Homo sapiens: one gene and its partners. The protein of the gene in region 1 interacts with the protein of each later gene in a biochemical or structural test. Each region holds a gene or a part of one and is shown in the gene's direction. Other genes may lie near its edges.

The links. Proteins that work in one complex are often made in the same cells at the same time.
Region 2: the proteins of LIG1 (region 1) and PHF20 interact in a test that uses a peptide from one of them, tested with the Homo sapiens proteins (one study listed by BioGRID).
Region 3: the proteins of LIG1 (region 1) and CBX3 interact in a test that uses a peptide from one of them, tested with the Homo sapiens proteins (one study listed by BioGRID).
Region 4: the proteins of LIG1 (region 1) and L3MBTL3 interact in a test that uses a peptide from one of them, tested with the Homo sapiens proteins (one study listed by BioGRID).

The regions. Positions count from the first base shown.
Region 1 is NC_000019.10:48,159,587-48,164,626, reverse strand, and holds part of LIG1 (DNA ligase 1), read left to right. Parts: intron 1-2,275; coding exon 2,276-2,365; intron 2,366-3,119; coding exon 3,120-3,255; intron 3,256-5,040.
Region 2 is NC_000020.11:35,868,746-35,873,014, forward strand, and holds part of PHF20 (PHD finger protein 20), read left to right. Parts: intron 1-692; coding exon 693-806; intron 807-2,209; coding exon 2,210-2,389; intron 2,390-2,904; coding exon 2,905-3,084; intron 3,085-4,269. UniProt on the Homo sapiens protein: Methyllysine-binding protein, component of the MOF histone acetyltransferase protein complex.
Region 3 is NC_000007.14:26,203,976-26,208,244, forward strand, and holds part of CBX3 (chromobox protein homolog 3), read left to right. Parts: intron 1-2,392; coding exon 2,393-2,535; intron 2,536-4,269.
Region 4 is NC_000006.12:130,066,312-130,070,580, forward strand, and holds part of L3MBTL3 (lethal(3)malignant brain tumor-like protein 3), read left to right. Parts: intron 1-41; coding exon 42-177; intron 178-2,018; coding exon 2,019-2,110; intron 2,111-4,269. UniProt on the Homo sapiens protein: Is a negative regulator of Notch target genes expression, required for RBPJ-mediated transcriptional repression. It recruits KDM1A to Notch-responsive elements and promotes KDM1A-mediated H3K4me demethylation.

The DNA.
Region 1 (5,040 bases):
TCAGGCGGGCTCTCCCCTCTTAGCGGTCCCCTTGGAAAGAGGGTGTTAGAGCCCAGTTTCACTGGCCCAGCCTGGGCCACATACCTATCCCTGAACCAGCCACAGGGATGCAGCCTGGATCACGTGTCCACCCCTGGTCACAGGCAAAAGGGCCAGCCCACTCAAATCGTGTGTACTGAGAGAATGTGGGGTAAGAAGCATCCCAAGAGGAAAACGGAGGGGCTGTTACCAGGAGGAAAAAATGGATGGTAGAGAGACCCAGACAAGGGCATCCATCCCAGAAACCTGGGCGGTAGTGGCTTACACAAATGCTGGGTTCCGTTTTTCTCCCGTGATGAGGAATCTGGGGATTGTCTCTCCAGGGCTGATGGTGCCTTCGATTGCTTTCTGTCCACTGGCTTTTGCATGATTTTTCCTTTTCTTTTTGAAGATTAAATAAACCTCTTATTCTGGAATAATTTTAGAGGTACAGGAAAGTTGCAAAGACAGTACAGAGAGGTCCTGTATACCCTTGGCCAGTTTCCATTGTCAATATCATACATTACTATGATCCGTTTCTCACCACTGAGATACTAATGTCAGTACATTACTCTTAACTGAACTCCATACTTTATTATTCAGATTTCACCAGATTTTTTTTTTAATGTTCACGCCTTCCAACATTTTTTTTTTTTTTTTTTTTGAGACAGAGTCTTGCTCTGTCGCCCAGGCTGGAGTGCAGTGGCGCGATCTTGGCTCACTGTAAGCTCTGCCTCCCAGGTTCAGGCCATTCCCCTGCCTCAGCCTCCTGAGTAGCTGGGACTACAGGCGCCTGCCACCACACCCAGCTAATTTTTTTTGTATTTTTAGTAGAAGCAGGGTTTCACCGTGTTAGCCAGGATGGTCTTGATCTCCTGACCTCGTGATCCGCCCACCTCGGCCTCCCAAAGTGTTGGGATTACAGGTGTGAGCCACCATGCCAGGCCCCAACATTTTATATTTAGTTGTTTGCTTAATATTTCTGCCCTTCACCAGAGTGTTAGCTTCTTGAAGGCAGGAACTTCGTGTGTCTGGGTCACTGCCAAACCCCTCAGGCCCAGAACAGGCCCTGGCACATAATAAGTGCTTAGGTAGGCCGGGCGCAGTGGCTCACACCTGTAATCCCAGCACTTTGGGAGGCAGGAGGATCACCTGAGATCAGGAGTTCGAGACCAGCCTGACCAACATGGTGAAACCCCTTCTCTACTAAATGAAAAAAATTAGCCGGGCGTGGTGGCGGCCACCTGTAATCTCAGCTACTCAGGAGGCTGAGGCAGGAGAAACACTTGAAACTGGGAGGCCGAGGTTGCAGTGAGCCGAGATTGCACCATTGCACTCCACCCTTGGGCAACAAGAGTGAAAACTCCATCTCAAAAAAAAAAATTTTTTTAGGCTGGGCGCGGGGGCACATGCCTGTAATCCCAACACTTTGGGAGGCCAGGGTGGGTGGATCACCTAAGGTCAGGAGTTTGAGACTGGCCTGGCCAACATGGAGAAAACCCGTGTCTACCAAAAATACAAAAAAAATTAGCTGGGCGTTGTGGTGGGCACCTGTAATCCCAGCTACTCGGGAGGCTGAGGCAGGAGAATCGCTTGAACCTGGGAGGCAGAAGTTGCAGTGAGCCGAGATCACACCATTGCACTCTAGCCTGGGCAACAGAGCGAGAGTCTGTCTAAAAAAAAAAGATTTAAAAAGTGCATAGTTAATATTTGTTGAATAAAACTTGGGATGTATCATATCTTGCAGGTGCGTTAGGGCAGAAAAATTAGTGTTGCCTCCTTTGTCTGAGTCTGAGTTTCCTTATCAGTTAAGTTAAAGGGCTTATTTGAAATTCTCTGTTATGTGCTGAGATGGAAATGGTGTTAGAAGTTATAGGATGCGGCCGGGCGCGGTGGCTTATGCCTGTAATCCCAGCACATTGGGAGGCCAAGCAGATCACAAGGTCAGGAGATCGAGACCATCCTGGCTAACACGGTGATACCCCATCTCTACTAAAAATACAAAAAATTAGCTGGGCATGGTGGCGGGTGCCTGTAGTTCCAGCTACTTGGGAGGCTGAGGCAGGAGAATGGCATGCACCCAGGAGGCGGAGCTTGCAGTGAGCTGAGATTGCGCCATTGCACTCCAGCCTGGGCTACAGAGCGAGACTCTGTCTCAAAAAAAAAAAAAAAAAAGGAAGTTATAGGATACAGCATAGATAGGCAGGGTATTGGTGCTGTTATTCTCCTTTTTTTACCCCCTTTTATGCTCCTCTAGGTCATTTTTCCACCCCAAGAAAGAGGGTAAAGCAAAGAAGCCTGAGAAGGAGGCATCCAATAGCAGCAGAGAGACGGAGCCCCCTCCAAAGTATGTCACAGGGCTGGGATATGGTGAATTTTTTCCTTTAGCAGTCAGGATTGTCTTGGTTGCAAGTGTTCAAACCTAATGCAAAATGTCTTGGGGCCCAAAAAACTTTTTCAGCCAGGTGGCCAGAAGTCCAAGAGCAAGAGCAGCTGCAGGCACAGCTGGATCCAGGGCCTCGGAGTTGTCTGTACGTCTCTGTTTCTGCAGGTCTTGGCCTCGTTCTAGAACCAGACATTCTCCATAATGCAGAGAAGCTGGCCGCTGGCCACTGGCCACGTCTTGATGCTGTCTCATCTAAGTAGAAGACAACAGTACTCTTTTTTTTTTGAAATGGAGTCTCACTCTCACCCAGGCTGGAGTGCAATGGTGTGATCTCGGCCCACTGCACTCCAGCCTGGGCGACAGAGCAAGATTCCATCTCAAAAAAAAAAAAAAAAAGGCATCCCAATAGATGCTGGAGACCAATGGCAACCTTAGGCAGGGACTCCATTTGCTCCTCAGCATCACCCATCACAGGGCAGGCACTCTGGAGACTTCCAGAGATGTGTGATGGGTGGGTGAGTGGATGAGTGGGCGGGTGGATTAATGCACTGATGGATGAAATGATGAGATTTGCTGAGGAGACAACCAGAAAATGTTCATTGGATGCTTGAAAGGAAGGGAAGGAAACAGCAAAGAAACCAAAGTGTTTGCGGGCAGTGCCCCCACTCTGCCTGCTGTAGTCGCCCCTTTACACCCCCATTTCCCCACCTTCCAGGGCGGCACTGAAGGAGTGGAATGGAGTGGTGTCCGAGAGTGACTCTCCGGTGAAGAGGCCAGGGAGGAAGGCGGCCCGGGTCCTGGGCAGCGAAGGGGAAGAGGAGGATGAAGCCCTTAGCCCTGCTAAAGGCCAGGTAGGTCCCCATCACCCTGCCCATTTTTACCAGAAGAAACTAATTCCCATTAACCTTTGGAACAGAGTGCAGCAGCTGTTCAGGAGAATTCTGGAGAAATTGCCCGGGAGAGGTAGATGTGTTTCCTGGTTGTGTCGGGGGCAGACACAACCTGGTCCTAATTGCCCCTGCCCTAGGACCTCGGGTGGGCTCCTTCACCACGTTAGGTCTTGGATGCCTCAACTGTAACATGCAGCTCCTGGTAACACCTTCCTCATAGGGTGACTGGGAAGATGAAATGAGTCGATTTACATACAGATCTGAGAATAATGCCTGATGGTAAAACAAGGGCTCAAGGCCCAGCACAATGGCTTACGTCTGTAATCCCAGCACGTTGGGAGGCCAACGTGGGAGGATCACTTGAGGCCAGGAGTTCGAGACCAGGCTGGGCAACATAGCGAGACCCCATCTCTACAAAAAAATGTTTTAAAAATTAGCCAGGTGTGGTGGTGCATGCCTGTGGTGCTATCTCCTTGAGAGGCTGAGGCAGGAGGATCGCTTGAGCCCGGGTGTTCAAGGCTGCAGTGAACTGTGATTGTACCACTGTACTCCAGCCGGGGTGACAGAGCAAGACCTTGCTTCAAAAAAAAAAAAGCAAAAAAATAAGGGTTCAAAAGTATATCTAGCCTCTCCTGTGGTCAGAGGGCTTTTTAACTTCTCCAAATACATTGGACCACTCTCTTCCCCTGTTTAAGTCATTTAATGCTTGTTCATTGCTTTGTGGATGATGTCCAAAGCGTGGTGCTGCTTATTCTGTCAGTGGTGAGGTCAGGTCCTGTGACTCCCTGCCCAAACCCCCTGGTATTACCACCACAGGCCAAAGCCAGGCCTTGTGGAAACCTCCCAGGCCCCTCCTGCTGCTCCTCTCTTCCCCCGCCCATCACATCTGCAGCCGCATCCACAGCTCCTCCTCAGCTCGCTCCATCCTGGCTTCCCACACCCACCAGGTGCACTTCCACCTCTGGGCCACTACCTTCTTTCCCAGCCTAAAACTCTCTTTCCCAGATACACGCCTGGCTCAGTCCCCTGCTTTCTTCCATGCTTTGCTCAGATATCACTTCCTCAGCGAAACTTTCCTCACCACCTATGTTAGCTTCCCATTTGCTGCCATAACAATTGACCACAAACGCAGTGGCTTAAAACAGTGTCAGTTTATTGTCTTACAGTTTGGGAGTCGTGAGTCTCAAATGGGTTGCACTGGGCTAAACTCAAGGTGTCAGCAGGTCTGCGTTCATTTCTGGGGGCTCTGGGGGAGAATCCAGGAATTGCCTTTTCCAGCTGCTAGAGATCCCCTTTTCTCCGTTTTCAAAGCAAGTGGCTGGGTGTGGTGGCTCACGCCTGTAATCCCAGCACTTTGGGAGGCCGAGGCAGGCAGATCACAAGGTCCGGAGATTGAGACCATCCTGGCTAACATGGTGAAACCATGTCTCTATCAAAAATACAAAAAATTAGCTGGGCGTGGTGGCGGGCGCCTGTAGTCCCAGCTACTCGGGAGGATGAGGCAGGAGAATGGCGTGAACCCGGGAGGCGGAGCTTGCAGTGAGCCAAGATCGTGCCACTGCACTCCAGCCTGGGTGACAGAGCAAGACTCTGTCTCAAAAAATAAATAAATAAATAAATAAATAAGCAAGTGGCATTGCCTCCTTCTGTGCCTTTCTTCTGTGGCCACATCTCACCCTGACTTTCCTCTCCTGCCACCCTCTTCCACTTTGAAGGCCCCTGTGACTATATCAGGCCCACCTGGAT
Region 2 (4,269 bases), on another chromosome or scaffold:
TGTTAACTAGCATAGTCTCCCAAGAATTTTTTTAGGATTTTGTTTAAGAAAATACAAATTCTCGGCTGGGTCTCATGGCTCATGCTTGTAATCCCAGAACTTTGGGAGGACGAGGCAGCTGGATCACTTGAGGTCAGGAATTTGAGACCAGCCTGACCAACATGGGGAAACCGTGACTCTACTAAAATTACAAAAATTAGCCGGGTGTGGTGTCGGGTGCCTGTAATCCCACCTACTCCGGAGGCTGAGGCAGGAGAATCGTTTGCACCTGGGAGGCGGAGGTTGCAGTGAGCAGAGATCGCGGCACTGCACTCCAGCTTGGGTGACAGAGCGAGACTCCATCTCAAAAAAAAAAAATCCACAAATTCTCTTGGACATTTTTCTTGTACCCTCAAAACTAGGCCCAGTGCTAAGATAATTAATGTAGCAAGTAGAGGTTGAAAACTGGAGCTGGATCATAGAAAAGATTCAGGAGGTCAATTGGCAAGGTATCACCATCTCCTGTAAGGAAGTAATTTCTCACTCATTTTACTTTTTTTCTTTTATCTTAAGTAAGAATGCCCTTTTGATGGCCCATTTATAATGCAGTGATTTCTGCATATATATATGTATATATGTTTTATTTATATATAAAAATGACAGACACTAAGAAATTATGTATCTTTTTTTGTGTGGTTTTATAAACATGGTAGCTGTGGATTCAAACTCTCAAACTTTGCAACCAATAACATTGGAACTGAGAAGAAGGAAAATATCAAAAGGATGTGAAGTCCCATTAAAACGTCCTCGGCTTGACAAAAATTCATGTGAGTCTACAGTTTGTTTATGTGTGGCTAGAATTTGACGTTGTTTGGGTCAACTTCCTCTATATTCATCCTGTCCCCCATTCCCTATAGGCTCTAATGTTTGTCTCTGGTCACATGAGGTAATGTGAGTTGGATGCAGTTGGATCAGAAGGAGTTTTTGCTAGAAGAAAAATAAATCCCAAAGCACAAACTGTACTAATGTTGGGTTCTGTGGTATCATCTCCATATCCATAAATCACATTTGATTTGGATGCCACTGGAAATTTAATGGCTTAGGAAGGGATGGGTTTCATATGCAGAGTGAAACTTTAAAAATACTACTTATTGGCCTGGCGCAGTGGCTCATGCCTGTAATCCCAGCAGTTTGGGAGGCTGAGGTGGGTGGATCATCTGAGGTCAGGAGTTTGAGAACAGCCTGGCCAACATGGTGAAACCCTATCTTTACTAAAAATATAAAAATTAGCCGGGTGTGGCCAGGCGCGGTAGCTCACGCCTGTAATCCCAGCACTTTGGGAGGCTGAGGTGGGCAGATCATGAGGACGGGAGATTGAGACCATCTTGGCTAACATGGTGAAACCCCATCTCTACTAAAAATATAAAAAATTAGCCGGGTGTTGTGGCAGGCACCTGTAGTCCCAGCTATTCAGGAGGCTGAGGCAGAAGAATGGCATGAACCCGGGAGGCGGAGCTAGCAGTGAGCCGAGATCGCGCCACTGCACTCCAGCCTGGGCGAGAGAGCGAGACTCCGTCTCAAAAAAAAAAAAAAAAAAAAAAAAAAAATTAGCCGGGTGTGGTGGCGGGTGCCTGTAATCCCAGCTACTTGGGAGGCTGAGGCAGGAGAATTGTTTGAACTTGGGAGGCAGAGGTTGCAGTGAGCCAAGACTGTGCCACTGCCCTCCAGCCTGGGTGATAGAGTGAGACTCTGTCCTATAAAAAATAAAAATACAAAATAAAATACTATTTATTGATTTAAAAAAATACCCTCTGGAGTGAGTTGGCTCAAATGTTTAAATAAATTTAAAATAAAATAGTATCCTGTTGGCTCCAAAAAGGATTTGTGATAGCTCTAAGTAAGGCTCTTATAAACCTTTTTAAGTCGACTTTGCAAGTTAGTACATTTGGGAAGCCCCAAAATAGAACATAGTTGTCAAGATTCGGACATGACCTAGCACATGTTTTCAGACCATGAATCCTTAAAGAAGTGAAATTCTATCCTGGCAGGGACACTTTTCCCTTACTTAAAACTGTAAACTAGTAAAGGGTATTTCCTTTTATCACTACTCTAACATTCCAGTAGTCTCTCTGTAAAGTCCTTTTAGAGACATCCAGCCCTGAAATCTGTAGTAGCACAGTTATTTCTTCTTGTTGGTCTCTTGACTACAACTCTCTTAATGGTTTAATAGCCCAGGAAAAGTCAAAAAACTACTCGGAAAACACTGACAAAGACTTATCGAGGAGACGTTCCTCCAGGCTGTCCACTAATGGGACCCATGAGATCCTAGATCCTGACTTGGTTGTATCAGATTTGGTTGATACGGATCCTTTGCAAGACACGTTGTCTAGTACCAAGGAATCTGAAGAAGGTGAGTCAGTCTGTTCAGGAATTGTCTTGCCAACCTGGTTCCTATTTAGTGAGAATCAATGTAAATCATTATGTTCTGCCTTCCACAAGTATTAAATTGTCTTGAAATCAAACTATTGAATGTGCTGCAGTGTTTTTATAATGTATTGCTCTTCACTGATGATTTATTCAATAGACATACTTTCTGGATGCATTTGTGGTTGGTTTTGCTTATCTACCGTTCAGTGTTGGCCTGGAGGTACACTGTTCGAAGAGCCCTGCTTCTCTCTCTCTGCTGCCATCTCATTCGTGCCTTTGTGTTTATACTTCCAGCTATTTTTCCTTTCACTTTAACCTCTTTCTTTGAGAAGCTCACAAGCCAGCCTGTATGTATGGGAACCTGTGAATGTATGCTTTTATGTTTTAGATTAATTCCTTCCTCTAAAAAGTCCCTGGCTTTCTTAGACTGTTGTAGGACTTTTGATTTCAGAATTACATACATGTATATTTCCCCCAAACTTTCTTTTTTTCTTCTAGGTCAGTTGAAGTCTGCTTTGGAAGCTGGCCAGGTCTCATCTGCACTGACTTGCCACTCCTTTGGGGATGGATCCGGGGCTGCAGGCTTGGAGTTGAACTGCCCATCAATGGGAGAAAACACGATGAAAACAGAACCGACTTCTCCCCTTGTGGAATTACAAGAGATTTCGACTGTGGAAGGTTCATATTTAGAGTTAAATTAATCCTCTTTTTATATACACTTTTGCTTATGCTTTGTGAACTAAAAAAAAAAAAATGACTTTTCTGTTGTTGTTTTTCACCTTTTATTAATATTCCCTTATCATTTTAATGTTATGCTCCTTTCATTTCTGATTTTGATAATTTGTGTTCCCTCTCTTAGTATGACTAGGGCTTTATCTATTTTGTTTTCAAAGAACTAACTTTTTACTTCAATTTTCTCTATTGTTTATTTTTAAAAATATAATTGATTTCTGTTTTGATCTTGCTTTCTTCCTTCAATTTTTTCTAGAACTTTACCTAATTGATTTTAGATCTTTCTTCCTTTTTTTTTTCATTACCTGGTGAAAAGATCTTTCTTCCTAATATGAGTATTTAAAGTTATAAATTTCTGGCTGGGCGCGATGGCTCATGCCTGTAATCCCAGCACTTTGGGAGGCCGAGGTGGGTGGATTGCCTGAGGTGGAGAGTTCGAGACCAGCCTGGCCAGCATGGTGAAACCCCGACTCTACTAAAAATACAAAAATTAGCTGGGCATGGTGGCAGGCACCTGTAGTCCCAGCTACTCGGGAAGCTGAGGCAGGAGAATTGCTTGAACCCAGGAGGCGGAGGTTGCGGTGAGCCAAGATCATGCCATTGCACTCCAGCCTGGGCAGCAGAGCGAGACTCAGTCTAAATAAATAAATAAATAATGAAATTATACATTTCCCACTGAGAACTGCTTTAGCAGCATCCTACACATTTTGATACGTTGTGTTTTTATTTTTGTTCAATTTAATATATCTTGTGATTTATTTGTTGACCATGGGTTACTTAGAAGTATGTTGTTTCAGTTTGAAGTATTTTATGTTTTTGTAGATACCTTATTGCTATTGATTTCTAATATAGTTTTACTGTGGTCAGAGAACATACTCTGTAGGATTTCAATCTTTTTATATTTGTTGCGATTTAATTTATGGTCCAGCATATGATCTGTCCTGGTGAATGTTTCATATGCACTTGAAAAGAATGTGTATTTTACCGTTGTCATGTGTTTGTTCTGTATCTGTCAGTTAGATCAAGGTAGTTGATGGTGTTTCTCTGATAAATTGATTTTTGTGGGGTTTTTTTCCTTTTGGTCTAGTTCTGTCAATTTCTAAGAGAAGGTTGTTAGGTTGTTAAAATCTC
Region 3 (4,269 bases), on another chromosome or scaffold:
AGTTTATTTTGTGAAGGATCACAGGTTGGCCACTTTAAAAGTTCTTAACTTTCCATTTTAAAAATTCATTAGTGTTGTGAGATATGTGTGCTGTTAATTTCACTTAAATAATGGGAAATTTATTTTGACTCATCCACTTTTGGAAAAAAGTGCTGGGTTAAGGCAAATATATACTATAAAAGAAAATAGTGAGCATTTGAAACTAGCTTATGAATGCCATAGTAGTGAATGAATACTGTATGGCATTTTGTCTGCCTTTTTTTTTTTGTAAACCTTAGTGTGTATCCTTTTCATTTTCTGTATTTATTGTTGACTTTATTTTGTTAGCCTTCTCCCTTTGTGGCAGTAGCTGTTTTGTTTTTCATGTAGTATAGGTATCTGATACACTTCTGTCTATTACAGTTTGTCTTTGCTCCTCCCACCATTATTCCTACCTTCTTGTACTGTACAGTGGCAGAAAGCTGTTTGGGCCCAGTACTCAAGTATCTTGACTAATGAGAATCATAACACCTGACTTAGAAATGGTATCCAAAAACGTCAGGTGTTTGCTGCATGTTTTTGTATTTCAGGGGATTTTTATTTTGTGTGTGTGTATGTGTTACCTATATGCTTGCATAGCTTGAAATGCCCTTTTGCAGTCTTGAGGCCTTTCTTACATATCTGTCTGCACACTTCATATGCCTGCATAGCTTGAAATGTCCTTCTGTAGCCTTGAGGTGTTCTTAACTTTTTTCTGCTTGCTGCTTTACTTGTGGGATGGCTTTAATGATTGAGCAATTAAGGTTTATCTTTTTTAAATAGTATTTGGGTTTTTTGTTTTTGTGTTTTTTTGAGACAGAGTTTTTCTCTTGTTGTCCAGGCTAGAGTGCAATGGCGTGATCTTGGCTCACCGCAACTTAAGCCTCCTGGGTTCAAGCAGTTCTCCTGCCTCAGCCTCCCAAGTAGCTGGGATTACAGGCATGCACCACTATGCCTGGCTAATTTTGTATTTTTAGTAGAAACGGGGTTTCTCCATGTTGGTCAGGCTGGTCTCAAACTCCTGACCTCAGATGATCTGCCCACCTCGGCCTCCCAAAGTGCTGGGATTACAGGCATGAGCCACTGCCCCCGGCAATAGCATTTGCTTTAAGATGAAATGTTAAGATGGATTCCTTCTCAGCCCATAGGATCTTCTGATTAACCATTTCAGGGTTTTTTTTCCCCCATTTTTAATCCTCTCATAAAAATTTTCCCCATTTTTAGTCCTCTCATAGGAAATCTTGAGCCATTGGAAAGAGCTGGTTCACGTTGGTTTCCTGCTTCTCTTAAATAGTGTCATACCAAAGAAAATGCCTGTTTAAAGTGAATTTGGTTACCAGTATAGACTTTCTCTTGAGAAACCAGGAAGGAAGGATTTTTTTCACCTTAGGGAATTAAAATAAATTTGTAATGTTGGTCTCTTGAAGTGATAGCTTTATAGTTTTGTTCTAAGTGGTAGGAAATATTATCTACAGAGATTATGGAAAAATAATCTTGTCCTTTAATTGAACCTCCTAGTGGTCTCTATAGTTGACCCTGCAGTTGGTATCAGGATTTTGAACCATGTTTTCATTCTGCATTTATCTTTTCTCTGTATCATTGATGCTTTTGACATTAATATTTGAATTGAGAAGGGGGCTGGGGCTTTTACCATCTGGGGGTGGATACAAGGTCTGTCATAGGTTCACCTAAGACCTGTCACTACTACTTGCTTCTCTGTATCACCCTTTAGGTACTTCCTGCATAGTTGTTTGTTGCAGTGTTGTTAAAATGAGTGAAAATTAGTAAACTTGGTCTTTTAAGACTACAGGGCCGGGCGCAGTGGCTCACGCCTGTAATGCCAGCACTTTGGGAGGCCCAGGCTGGTGAATCACTTCAGGTCAGGAGTTTGAGACCAGCCTGGTCAACATGGTGAAACCCTGTTTCTAATAAAAACACAAAAAAAATTAGCCCGGCATGGTGGCATCCGCCTATAATCCCAGCTACTCTGGAGGCTGAGGCATGAGAACTGCTTGAACCTGGGGAGGCGGAGGTTGCAGTGAGCTGAGATCACGCCACTGCACTCCAGCCTGGGCGACAAGAGTGTGAGACCCTGTCTCAAAAAAAAAGACTGGAAAAAAATAACTGTTTCCAGATAGTGTTTTTTTATTGTATTATTTTGGTGGTGGGTTGTAAGTTTGAACTAAATGAACAAGATAAAGCATTCTTTTATTTTATTGTCTGTTGACTTTTAATCTTTCCAGAAGGTGTCTGCCCTGGGATATAGAAGTAAAAATTTATGTCGAATGTGATAATAATATAAGCAATTGAGCCTTGAAAATGTGCTCAAAATTCAAGAGGAATATTTCTTAATTTCTCTTTTGTTTTATTTTAGCAAAAAATGGGAAAAAAACAGAATGGAAAGAGTAAAAAAGTTGAAGAGGCAGAGCCTGAAGAATTTGTCGTGGAAAAAGTACTAGATCGACGTGTAGTGAATGGGAAAGTGGAATATTTCCTGAAGTGGAAGGGATTTACAGAGTAAGAAACTTTAGTGCATCTTTACTATATGTTTAACTGCAGCTAAGTGGTTTTAGAATTTGTTTTTAACCTGGCTCTTTTACCTGCTTTCCTGTAGGTGTCTTTAAATGTAAAGACACTTTGAATTTTAGGTGTCTCATTTGAGGTCTATTTCAAAAGAACCAAGACTTTATTGTACAGTTGAAGGTGAGCAGACTAGAGACTAGTTTATTACCCTGGGGAGTCAAATTTATAAAATTATGGAGTGTAGTTTACTATGTAATATATTTTAATGTGGTTAGATATTACACTAATTAGAATAATCTGCATTATTTTCCTCCACACAGAGGGTGCTAAAAACATTGAAGCTTTACAATATAGACTAGTGGGTCTCATACAGGATTACATATAATCTAGGCTTTATACTAGGTTTATTATATCCTTATACCTAAGAAGTAGAACCTGGGCATGTTTTAAGCTCTCTGGTTCCTTGTGTTCTTTGATATGGATTGCTCTCATTATTCTTGATAATGTTATTCACAAAATGTGAATAACTTGAACATGCAACAATTACATACTTTAACGCTTGGGGTTTGTTGTGCTTATCTGCTTTGATTCTTCCCCCTTACACCACAAAGCTCCATAGGCAGTGACAATTAAAAATGGATAGGTGGAGATCAATTTCCTGAGCACGCTGGAGATGGAGCATATGATAGTCGAATGATTGGGCTTCACCTATCTGTTATCTCCTACTTCCCCTGCTCTTCACATTTAATTCATAGCAGTTTGGGAATTATGAATTGAATGGGAGATTTACGTTTGCCTGTTTTATCCTTCAGTATTCTTAGTTTAAATTAAGTATGTGTCGTAAGTCCCTTCTTTATTAAGCCCATGAAACATGAAAAATTATTTTTACCCATCAAAACATTAGGAAATGAATGGGCTCCTCCCTCTTCTCCCAAAACTTAAGGCCACTAGCATGATTATAGCGTACTTCCCATGTGCAGTGTAACAGGTAATGTAAAAGACTTTTTTTTGTTTTGTTTTGAGATGGAGTCTCACCCTGTTGCCCAGGCTGGAGTGCAGTGGCGTGATCTCAGCTCACTGCAACCTCTGCCTTCCGAGTTGAGGCGATTTTCCTGCCTCAGCCTCCTGAGTAGCTGGGACTACAGGCGCCTGCCACTATGCCCGGCTAATTTTTGTATTTTAGCAGAGACCGGGTTTCACCATGTTGGTCAGGCTGATCCCAAACTCCTGACCTCAAGTGATCCACCTGCCTTGGCCTCCCAAAGTGCTGGGATTACAGGTGTGAGCCACCGTGCCAGGCCAAAGAAGACTTTAATGAAAATAATACTACAGAGCAGAGACTTTTATTGTCCTCTACCCAGTAATTTGGGTTTACTAATTTGGAGTCTCAGGGTAGCAAATTAGAATATAGGGCCTGGGTGCAGTGGCTCACACCTGTAATTCCAGCACTTTGGGGGTCCAAGGCTGGAGGATCACTTGACACCAGGAATTCAAGACCAGCCTGGCCAACAAAATGAGACCCCTTCTCTATTAAAAAAAAAAAAAAAGTGTGTGTTTTAAGTTAGCTGGGCATGGTGGTGCATGCCTGTAGTCCCAGCTACTTGGGCTGAGGTGGAGGATCGCTTGAGTCGGGAGTTGGAATCTTCAGTGAGCTATGATTCCACTACTGCACTCTCGTCTGGGCAACAAAGCAAGACCCTGTCTCTGGCGGAGGCAGGCTGGGGGGTG
Region 4 (4,269 bases), on another chromosome or scaffold:
TGAGTTAAAAAAAATAATTCAACCTATTTTACCTGTTTCAGGTTTGTGGATACCGGATAAAGCTTCACTTTGATGGGTATTCTGATTGCTATGACTTCTGGGTGAATGCAGACGCTCTGGATATCCACCCAGTTGGGTGGTGTGAGAAAACCGGCCACAAACTCCATCCTCCAAAAGGTTTTGTCACTTTTTGTTTGATATTTTAAATTCAGTAAAAACTCATTTTCTTACATGCTACATTAGAATTGTTAAGAATTCAGACTTTATGAAAATTCAGATAGGCACAAATTTAACCTTATTGTTTATGATGAAACCATGTTTATTAAAGTTAAAGAAATAAAAGCAGAATCCAGCCTAGGAAAATAAAGTATGTTCATATGCTTATTTTCATGTAAAATAACATTTGCATGATACTCAACTTTGACTACAAATAATGTTTACCTGCAAATTTCTATTATTAAATACATACATCTTTGAAAAAACTGATTTGAAAAATTAGTTTAAATTAGTTTATATAACTAAGTTTAGTGTTAACTGGTTTAAACTAATTTTTCAAATCAGTTTTTCATTATATAGAAAATCCTGAGAAATTATGCTTGACCGTATAGATCTTAATATTTAGGAGATTGGCAAGAAGACTGTAACACTAAAAATTGGCTTAGGTGGGGGGTTGAACTCATAGCAATTACTTTTCTTATATTTGAGTACTTTATATTATAGTCCCCCAGTGATTTTCCTATTTCATGTTTATATCAAAGTTCAAGAATAACAGATATCGTCTTTTTCACTGTCTGCCTAAAGTATTCCCTAATTTTTTTTTGAGACGGAGTCTTGCTGTGTCGCCCAGGTTGCAGTGCAGTGGTGTGATATTGGCTCACTGCAGCCACTGCCTAGCAGGTTCAAGTGATTCTCCTACCTCAGCCTCCCGAATAGCTGGGATTACAGGTGCCTGCCACCATGCCTGGCTGATTTTTGTGTTTTTATTAGAGACAGAGCTTCACCATGTTGGCCAGGCTGGTCTCAAACTTCTGGCCTCAAGTGATCTGCCCACCTTGGCCTCCCAAAGTGCTGGGATTACAGGTGTAAGCCACCGTGCCCGGCCATATTTAGTAATATCTTATTCCCTTCTATTTCAATCATTACATTGATTTTTGTTTATGTCAAAAATTCAGGTTACTGGGTTGATATTTTTGGCCTGTCTCAGGGCTTTAATGCATTAGCCATCCCTTTGTTTTAAGTGAAAAAATAATGGCAGAGTGGTATTTTCAGATAGCTGAAGGATTCAACAAAATAGCATAGAAAAAGTGAGGGTGAAAAAGAAAATCTGTAAGCCTTTTCACGAATTGATCTCTTATATATGGTAAATTATTAGCTGGTTTTTTCATGCTGCTTTCTGGACTTTAATGAATGTAAAATAAAGCATATTCGCAGATAAAATAAGATGCTCAATTTCCTTTTTAAAGGAAATGTTAACTTCAATGAAATTGTAAAAATTAAGGGGAGGACATTTCCCTTATTGTAATTTGCCAGCATCCTTACTTCATAAACCTTAAATTGTCCTTCTTGAAGTGATAGGCCAAAAAGATTTTACCTGTTTCATTTCTATTATTTCCACCTTTCCACTTGTTCCTATAAGTTAGTCTTCCCAAAATAGACTAGGTGAGAGAAAAATAAAGAATTTTGACTATTGTAGTTCAGTATCTATACCGCTGAGGAATTCTACCTAAATACTGGTACAAATACCCTGATAATAAGTGTCCTGGGTATAATACATATTTGTTTCCTTATTCCTTTTCTTTATATCCATTACCATTCATTCAGAATTGGAAAATAATAATACAGTTTGTTGAAAATAAACATAGTCTAAATATGCATAGTTATGAATTATGAGTTAAATTTTGTTTATTTAAAAAGTCATTTGATTGATTTTGGCATGTTAGAGATAAAAGTGGGACTGGAAAACTAAGTGTAAAATATTGTGGTATTTGAATCAATCTGTTCATATGTGCTTACTCTAGGGTATAAAGAAGAAGAATTCAATTGGCAGACCTATCTTAAGACATGTAAAGCTCAAGCTGCTCCTAAGTCATTATTTGAAAATCAGAATATAGTAAGTACATACGAAACACGTTTTCTTTCAAAGGAAGAAGTTTTTTGAGTGTCTCATAGGATCAATTACAAGTGATAACAAGGAACTATAATAAATTTTATCGCCTTGGTAAATAGAGTACTCTTATCTTAATTAAAGTTTAAAATTAGCTTAAAATCTTCATGAACAAATATGTTTTATAGCCATATTATGGTTGTCTCTTTTATTGCATAGTAGAAGACAAGATAGTACAAGATTCAGGTGAGATTTACAATTAAGATGCATAAAAAATTAAATTGGCTGAGATATTTTATTGTTATTATCACTTATATGGGAGTGCTGTTCAAATGGGATTCACATAGCCAGATGAAGGTAGCCCTGTTTCAGTTTACATGTAGGAGGTCACTGGAGACTGTGACATATCTTCACTCTAGCTTATAGCTTTGTTTACAGTAAACAAAAACAAAATCTGGATGTGCGTGTCTTTTCTACTTGACCGGTATTCCTGCTTTCCATAACATGTTCCTCCATTGGCCGACTTGATCCATGACATTTTTCTTTTCCCAAGTTCTGATCTAATTGGAAAGAATAAAGGGCAAGCCAGTGGAAAACCAAAATGCCATCTTTACAGATGGTCAGAGCTGAGTTGGAGGACGTGCATGGCTTGTATCTGCAGACAAATAAGCTTGATTCTGAGCCCTAGAATGGAAGAGATTTAATTCGCCTTTCACGCCCATCCCCCAAGCCTGGAGAACACTAGACCCTTGAGGAGCAGAGTGGAAACTGTGCACCCTGCAGCCCAGCTTTCTCTCTAGTATGATCAGTTCCTCCTTTCCAGAGTCACCAGGCTGGTAGCAGTGAGTGAGACAGTGGGGAGAAGCAGTAATGTTTCACTAACAGCATTCCCTTCAAATGGAAATAAATAAATATCAAGAGCAGGAGAAACCTCCTCACTCCAAAAATCCTTCATTTGGGAAACAGTGTTAACCAGTTGGTTTGAGAGCATCAATCTAATGGCTGAAATGTTTTCTGATTTAATCAAACACAAACCAGGTTGGATTACAGAACTGACACATTGTGTTTGTGTGCATGCGTATGTGTGTTTAGGTTAGTAATAGTGTTAATGGGCCAGCTTATTATTTTAAAACATCTTAATTGAGAGGATAGTGTAATTGCCAAAGTGTAACAGTGCATTGTCAGTTGGTATTCTCTGTCAAAACTTATCCCAGGGAGGAAGGTCAGTTGGGTGGAAAACTTAGCAGCCTGCTGTCTCTGCTCCAAGTTTCCTAATCCCTGTCTGGTTCTCTGATGATGACTTCAGTCAGGGATTTGATTAACTGCCTTGAACGGTCTTCCTAAATTCTATGCATTGCCAGCATACAACTTAATCTTGGGCTCTCCATTTCGTATCTAAGAGACAATTAATTTTTCCATTTCTAGATTACCTCAGAATACTCAAACATTTATGATCAGAACTCGGATAAATTTCAGTACTTAAATGCATAGTAAAGATTTCTGTATAGCATTAGTGCCTGTTCTATCCATTCAGACACAACTTATTCTAACATTTTCAGATACACGGCTGTCTACATTTTTGCAATGATAGTTGTATAATTATAGTAAAATGAGAGATAGCATTTATTTTGCCTAAAGTAGTTAGAATAATATCTGTATAATTGAGTCTAACAGAGGTTTTTGTTTGTTTTTTGTTTTTTGTTTTGTTTTGTTTTGTTTTTAGGGAAGGAATGACTTGTAGTGTGTTGTGATTTGCATAATTGGTATCTAGATATACTAGTCTATAATATGTAGAGATAGATAGATTAAGATATTATTCCTCACAAAAGATTGTAAGAGATTTTATATATTACTGTACCTTAAGCACTAACTCTTACAGAACTTTCATTGTTTTTGTTCCATGTTCTGAATGACTGGTTATCTGTGGATTTCTTTAAGTTACCAACTATTTTGAATAGCTTTGTACATCAACAGCCAATTCTTTTGCTGCTATTAGGAATAAAATATATCTGTAGTGTTGAGTAAAAGTTGTAATAATTTGCAGCCTTTCATATATGAAGATGACCTACTTTCGAGAGTACTCTTTTGAGAGATATTTTCGGAAGTGGGAGTGAATTTGTACTGACTCATGCACATTTTTAACTTGATTAAGTGCATATTTTGTG